2 linked regions of the Homo sapiens genome follow. The protein of the gene in region 2 purifies or fractionates together with the protein of the main gene of each other region. This does not show direct contact. Each region holds a gene or a part of one and is shown on either strand. Other genes may lie near its edges. The genes, in order: TNFRSF13B and SCARF2.

Region 1 (3,806 bases), on a different chromosome or scaffold from region 2:
AGTATTAGATGATGTTAATAAATTATTGCTGGCAGTGATAGGATATTTGGATTATGTTTCACAGGTTTTCGTGGTCCAGTATCTGCAGGTAAAATTATATGAGATCTTGGCTGTGCTTTAAAATACACAAGGCAGGCTGGGTGCAGTGGCTCACGCCTGTAATCCCAGCACTTTGGGAGGCCGAGGTGGGTGGATCACCTAAGGTCAGGAGTTCAAGACCAGCCTGACCAACATGGAGAAACCCCATCTCTACTAAAAATACAAAATTAGCCGGGTGTGGTGGCACATGCCTGTAATCCCAGCTACTCGGGAGGCTGAGGAGGGAGAATCACTTGAACCCGGGCGGTGGAGGTTGCGGTGAGCCAAGATCGCACCATTGCACTCCAGCCTGAGCAACAAGAGCGAAACTTCATCTCAAAAAATAAAAATAAAAATAAAAAATAAAATAAATAAAATAAAATACACAAGTCAAAAAAATTGGTTGGGAAAGTACAAGGCAGAATTTAAACAATTTGTGAAGCTGGTGATGGGTGCAGAGGGCGTCATTGTGCTGTCCTCTCTATGTACATGTGTGATAAGTTCTGTAATAAAAAGTTTCAAAAGAATGTAACAACACACAGTGACAAGGGAGGGCCTAGTTCTACTGGGTGGTCAGAGGAGACCCCTGACGTTTGGGCTGAGACCTGAAGGTTGAGTAGGAGGGAGCTGAGGGAAGATGATAGAGGGAATGCATTCCAGGCAGCGGGAATAGCATGTGCAAAGGAACTGAGGCAGGAAAGAATGGACTGTGTTTGAGACACCGAAAGGAGGTTGTGTGACCAAAGCAGAAAGGTGGAGGGGTAAGAGGTGCCACACTGTACATCTCCTCCTGCCACCCTTTCCTCAGCCACCTGACTGTGGGGCCAGAGGGTGCTCTAGGGAGAAAGGAGGAGGGTGATCACACTGTCCCCTCGGCTCAGGCCCCAGAACTCACTGCAGAAGGCTGCACAGGTGCGCTGGCTCTGATGGTTGCAAATGGTTTTGCAGGACATGCAGGTACCCAGCAGAGGATCCCAGTACTGCTCTTCGGGGCAGGATCTCATAGCCACCCCCGTCCACAGGCCCTGTGGAACTGAGAGACCAGGAGAGTGAGGGCAGCTGGCAGGCGGCCACAGCCCGGCCTCTTGTCCCTGATGGGAACCAAGACGGCCTCTCCTGCCCACATTCGCACAGACAACCTTTCTGTCTGAGGAGCAGAGAGGGCAGACAAAGTTGGCTTCTAGCCCCCACTGCACTTGCTAGGGGCCTGGGGCAGCCACCTCCCCTCTCCAGCCTCAGTTTCCCCATCTGCACATGGTTGTTTTCAGGCCCCCTGCTCTCTCACATCAGCAGTGCCCTACTGGGCCCTGTTCCCTGCCCTCCTTAACGTGCCACGCCTCTCCCTGCCACAGGGTCTTTGCACCTGCTGTTCCCTCACATGACGTGCCCTTCTCCCCAGCCCCTGCCCCTCAGCTGTTTATTCCTTCTCAGACTGAGACCTCTGTCTAAACCTGATCTCCAAGGGAAGCCTTTCTGACTCACCCCCTAGACTAGGACACGGTCCTTCTTCTACACACTCGCACTGCCCTTTACCTGTTGCTGTGGTCACTTTCCTTCTATGCATGTGGTTATTTGATGCTGGCTCCTACACTAACTGTGAGCACCATCTGGCAGGGACTGTGCCTAATTTTTCTTATTAATTGCTGAGTCCTCAGAACCTAGATAGTACTTAGGACACAGCACCTGCTCATTAAGTGAATGGTTTCTTTAAGTACGGACCAACTCAGTGCCTAGCACACAGCAAGAACCAAGAATGTCAATTTCCTTCTTGTTTTCTTTTTTACTAAAGTATGAAACAACCACAATGATGTGTGTAAAGTGCACAAAAAGCTGAAGAATACAGCTTGGTGAAATTTGATGTATGTATGCACCTGTGTCATTACAGCCCACATGGAGATGTAGGACATTTCCTCACCCCTGAAGCCTCCCTGGGGTCCCCCGACACCCAATGCCCATGCCTAGAGGGAGCTACTGTTCTGTTGTTACCCTCATAGGCTAATATTGCCCCTTCTGGTACTTCCGTGTCTGGTTTTGTTCCTCCACTTGGTGCCTGAGACTCATCCATGTGGGCGCTCTCTGCATGTCTGGTTTTGTGTTACTGTGAATCTTCCACTGTGTGCATGCATCACCTTCTCCATCCTCTTCTGATTTCATGACATTTGCTTCCCCCAATAACTTCTCCTTAAAAATGCTTAAAAGCATTTTGCAAGGCATATGTTTGTTCTTTTTTTTTTCTTAGATGGAGTCTTTCTCTGTTGCCCAGGCTGGAGTGCAGTGGGTGTGATCTTGGCTCACAGCAACCTCCACCTCCCGGGTTCAAGCAGTTCTCCTGCAGCCTCCCAAGTAGCTGGGATTACAAGTGCATGCTACCATGTCTGGCTAATTTTTGTATTTTTAGTAGAGAGCGGGTTTCACTATGTTGGCCAGTCTGGTCTCAAACTCCTGACCTCGTGATCCGCCCGAGTCGGCCTCCCAAAGTGCTGGGATTATAGGCATGAGCCACCACGCCCAGTGGCATGTGTTTGTTCTTTAACGAAAGCAAGCTGAGGGAAGACCAGAGGTGGCTGGGCACCATGGCTCATGCCTGTAATCCGAGCATTTTGGGAGGTAGAGGTGGGAGGATTTCTTGAGGCCAGGAGTTCAAGATCAGCCTGAGAAACATAGTGAGATCCTGTCTCTACAAAAGGATTTTTAAAATTAGCCACGTGCTGTAGTCCCAGCTATTCAGGAGGCTGAGACAGGAGGATCGCTTGAGCCTGAGAGTTCAAGGCTGAGGTGAGCTATGACCACATCACTGCACTCCAGCCTGGATAACAGAGTGAGACCCAGTCTCTAAAAAAGGAAAAGAAAAAAGACCAGGGGCCTCTCATTTAACACGGCAGCTTAAACACAGGGGTTTATCTTCCTTCCCTCCTGAAACCATGCAAAGCTGACAGTCAAGTCCATCTATCTTCAGAGATCAAGGGAATGGCAGAGGTTTCTACAGCAAAGAACACATGTCTCTAACATTCTGGGAGATGGAGGAACCAGAGTGCCTGACTGCCTTTGAGAATCTCTCATCATTGATGCCTACATGGGAAGGAAGTTGTTCTGAGTCACAGAACTCAAGGAAGTCTCCAGATTTGGAGGCACCACGTATCTCTGACGGCAGGGCTGGGCAGAAGGGGTGAAGCTCTGTAAGAGGATTGGTTGGAAACTTACATAAAGAGGGTGTGACCCCAGCACATCCCCATTCCAAGGCAGGTGCCAGTCCCTCACCCACCCAGGCATAAGAGTGGGGTCTCCTTGGACACAGCTGAGGGTAGCAACGTGGTCCTTCCTGGCAACAGGGGAATTGTGATAATCTTCCTCCTGGACAGCCAGTCTCCCCTCTCCTTACCCACCCCAGTTTCTATCTAAGGAGTGTGGCAACCAGGTTTTTAAAGATGCCTCCCTCCCTACCCTGCAACTGGCAGGAAATCAGAAGTCTCTGCTCTGGGAAAACAGACCCAAAGGAAAAGACCCAGAGGCACTGACAGCGGGAGATTCTCTCCAGAAAATGTCCAAGTCCCTGCCTGATCCCACTGGGGCAAAGCTTCTACGTCAGTGAGCCCAACTGCTTACCCAGAACTTCCAGGCAGCTGTCAGTGCCTCAGTCTGACTTGTGAACCAATGGCCAAGGGTCACCTGATATGGGAGCACTGCCTCTAGCAGGAAAGCAAACTCAAACCAAACAGAAGGCAGACACC
Region 2 (3,806 bases):
ACCAAGACCAGCCCTATTCTTGGACTGCAGGGGGCACAGGCAACTCAACAGGTACAGTGACACTGGGCCAGGACTGGAGAATGGGTAGAGGTGAACCCAGAAAAGAAACATGGGCACAACATGTGTTAAGGTGCAAGGCAAGTGTGTGCATCCAGGGAGCTGGAAAAGGTTGGGCTGACGTGTTGAGAAAAGGCCAGAAAGGTGGGAGACGGGGCTGAAGAAGACACCTGGCTGGGACAGGCCACCAAGGCCTCCAAGCTCTGTTTTAGGCCCTGCCTTGTGCGAATAAGGAAGCCTTGGAGCACTTCTGAGCCCAAATGCGCAGTGGCAGGGCTGCCCTTTGGCTCAGCCCATCTCAGCAAGCTGCACCCTAGGCCTGGCCTCCAGAGATGCAGACCCCACAACAGGGGGCCCCAGAAGCTGGCTAGCCTGGCCTCCATTCCACAGAGGGATGTGGGGTCCACTCCCCACACCTATGTCCCCAGATGCCATGCTGCTAGGTGGGCCAAGGGGTTTTCTCTCTCTTGCTTGCTTGCTTTTTCTTTTCTTTCGACAGTTTTGGGGTTTCTCCTCCCTCCCTCCCTCCCTCCCTCCCTTCCTTCTCTTTCTTCTTTTCTCTTCTCTTCTCTTCTCCTCTCCTCTCCTCTCTTCTCTTCTCTTTTTTCTTGACAGTTTTGCTCTTGTTGCCCAGGCTGGAGTGCAATGGTGCGATCTCGGCTCACTGCAACCTCTGCCTCCCTGCAACCTCTGCCTCCCAGGTTCAAGTGATTCTCTTGCCTCAGCCTCCAGAGTAGCTGGGATTATAGGCATGCGCCACCACACCCGGCTACTTTCGTATTTTTAGTAGAGACCGGGTTTCTCCATGTTGGTCAGGCTGGTCTTGAACTCCAGGCCTCAGGTGATCCACCTGCCTCGGCCTCCCAAAGTGCTGAGATTACAGGCATGAGCCACCATGCCCGGCTTGGCTAAGGGGTTTTCTCAGCTGTTTCCTTCATCTCCCAAGAGTCTGAGCCCCCTTCCCCTCCATCTTTAGAAATAAGTGGGAAAGAGAGGAAGAGAGGGTCCACCCAGGTGCAAGTCAGCATGGAGAGAAGCGGCACACCCCACCCCCCTATCCTGTTGGTGGGTGGGGACCAGCCTGCCCACTTTCCAGGAGGATCTCTGGGTACTGCTGGGGATGTAGGCAGGAGGGTGGGTCCTCTCCGTGGGGCAGGGCACTCCCGTGGCCACGCATTCCCCCAGCAGCTCTGGCCGGGATATACAGCATTCTCCTACAGACTGGGGGAGCCTGCGGGACCCAGATGTCCACACACCCCTGATGCGATCACTCTCAGGGCCAACGTTTCTGACATATGCCCACATCAGCCGGCGCACCTAGGACTCCTGCCTTCCTACCTTGCCTCGCCCTCAGCAGCTGCCACACCTCTTACCTTCCCTCTGGTCGCACCTCCTCGCGCCCACGCACATCAACACTCAAGGTCCCCCATTTCCTCACTGAGATCTGGACCCCCTCACACCCATTTCCCAGCAGCTTCCTGCGTCGAGAGGTGTTTCTCCCAGATACCCCGCGCTGTCATCCTTACCTACGACTTTGGGTAGTTTCTGCCTCCGGAGCGGGATCCGGGGCAGCTTCATGCTGATGCGACTGAAGCGCCCGCATAGTCGGTGCGGCGCCTTCTTCCTCCCAAGCGAAAGCTCCCTGCGGGGGCGGGGTCTGAGCGGAGGGGCGGGGCCGGGGCGGGGCCCAGGGGCGATTAGATCTCGGCCGGAGCCAAGCACAGAAGGGGCGGGGCCACGTCCGGGGCAGGGGCGCGGAAGGGTTGGATCTGGGTCCGGTGGCACCCAGAGGGTGCGGCCTGAACCCAGGCGAAAGCGGGGCAGTATCTGGGCTCACCGGCGCGTAGGGTCCTTGCCGCGGCAAGCGCAGCAGCAGCCGAGCAGCGAGAGCAGCAGGCAGACGAGCAGGACGAGCAGCGCGCCCGCGCCCATCACGCCCTTGCGCTGGTTGGTTTCTGTAGGGGGTTATGGGGTCAGCGCGGTTTCTGGCACCCCCTGCATTCCTTAACGGGACGCCCCTCATCCACTTACCTAGGTGGCAGGCACCAGTGACCGGGTCGCACGTGTCCTCGTGGCAGCTGCAGGCCTGAGCACAGTCCGCGCCGTGGAGTCCGGGCGGGCACGTCACGTTACAGCTGCCGGGACATAGGGTCAAGGCATGCCACAGCCGCCCCCCTAGGATGCCCCCTACCCTCACCCCTCACCCGCGGCCAGGGCCCAGGGTCCAGGGTCCCAGAACCGGGCTCTCTCTCGCTGCATTCGTCGTCTAGGGATTGAAGCCCCGCCCCGCCCGTGGCACATATTGGGTAGTGGATGTTTTGGAAACGAATGTTGCACAACACTAGTGGGGGGGCCTGGGGGATAGGACCCGTGGTGGCCGCGCCGCAGCGCCCACTGCTGGGGCTGACTCGGCTAGGTGGGAAGAGGGGCTGCTGAACCAGACCCTTGGCTGTAAGTGGAGGTCCCTGGTCCTTCTGTACCAACTCGGGGTCACCTTAAGAGCCCACTGACACAGGCTGGACTGGTCACCAGATCCTGCGCTGAACGTGAGCTCCCCGACATCCAGGCAGGAAACTGCCCCCAAAGAGCCTACTGTCACTCCCTAGCTGGGGTAAGGGACCAAGGCTGAGGTGATAACCCAGCTCAGGGTGGAGAGGCCACCTCGTCGGCTGGACCCCCCTCTGTGGCAGGTACAAGCCCCCAACCCCCTCCCGGTCCCGGGGCACTCACTGGGGCCCGTGGACGCCAGGGCTGCACAGGCAGCGCCCCGACTGGAAGTCGCAGTGTCCGCTGCCGCAGTCGGCGCACACGAAGGCGCAGTCCTCGCCGTAAGTGCCATTGCTACACTTGGTCTCGCACCTTGGAAAGAGGGGAGGAGGCGTCAGCAGAAATGGAGGCAAACGGACCACAGCGCCCTCGACATTGGGGCCTTTGTTAGGGAGGCAGGGCGGGGGACTGCGTGTCTGGGCCGACGCAGGCAGGGCTGCTCACCGGTCGCCGATCCAGCCCGCGTTGCAGCGCGTACACTTGCCGGTGACATGGTTACAGGCATGCCCGTCGCGGCATGGCGGACAGCGGTGGCTGCAGCCCTCGCCATAGAAACCGGTGGCGCAAGGCTGGTCGCACTTGGTTCCGTTCCAGCCGGGCTCGCACGTCAAGCAGCGGCCCTCGGCCACCGTGCACGGCTGCTGGCCCTTGCACTGGCCACACCTGGGGGAGGGGTCGGAGGCTAGGGAAGGCTGGGACCCGCCTCACCCCTGTCCCCATCGGCGGCCCGCCCTTCCACCTCCTCCCTCCCTGGCCGAGAGACCGCGCTTACCGGCGGCGACAGCCCAAGCCGTAGAAGCCGGCGGGGCACGGCTCGCGACAGTACTTGCCGCGGTAGCCCGGCTCGCAGGCACACGTGCCGTCCACAGGGTGGCAGCGGCCGCGGAAGCACTGGCAGTAGCGATCGCAGCGCGCGCCGAACGTACGCTCGCGGCACTGACAGCGGCCGCTCTGCTGCTCGCAGGGAGACGAGTTGCAGGCGCACTGGTTGTTGCAGCTGCGGCCCCACCAGCCTGCGTGGCACAGGCAGGCGCCGGTCTGTGGGTCGCAGCGCGACGTGGCGCTGCAGTAGCACGCGCTGGCGCACTGCGCGCCCCACCAGCCGGGCTCACAGCGGCACGCGCCGCTCCGCGGGTGGCACGTGCCGTGCTGGCACTGGCACGCATGCTCGCAGCGCGCGCCCCAGCGCCGCGCGTGACAAG

The links.
Region 1: the proteins of SCARF2 (region 2) and TNFRSF13B purify together in Homo sapiens (co-immunoprecipitation; one large-scale study listed by IntAct). This does not show direct contact.

What each region holds. Positions count from the first base shown.
Region 1 is NC_000017.11:16,951,473-16,955,278, forward strand, and holds part of TNFRSF13B (tumor necrosis factor receptor superfamily member 13B), read right to left. Parts: intron 1,112-3,806; coding exon 974-1,111; intron 1-973. UniProt on the Homo sapiens protein: Receptor for TNFSF13/APRIL and TNFSF13B/TALL1/BAFF/BLYS that binds both ligands with similar high affinity. Mediates calcineurin-dependent activation of NF-AT, as well as activation of NF-kappa-B and AP-1.
Region 2 is NC_000022.11:20,427,642-20,431,447, forward strand, and holds part of SCARF2 (scavenger receptor class F member 2 isoform 2 precursor), read right to left. Parts: coding exon 3,377-3,806; intron 3,268-3,376; coding exon 3,049-3,267; intron 2,917-3,048; coding exon 2,788-2,916; intron 2,193-2,787; coding exon 2,089-2,192; intron 2,013-2,088; coding exon 1,895-2,012; intron 1,715-1,894; coding exon of another isoform or gene 1,700-1,714; coding exon 1,584-1,699; intron 1-1,583. UniProt on the Homo sapiens protein: Probable adhesion protein, which mediates homophilic and heterophilic interactions. In contrast to SCARF1, it poorly mediates the binding and degradation of acetylated low density lipoprotein (Ac-LDL).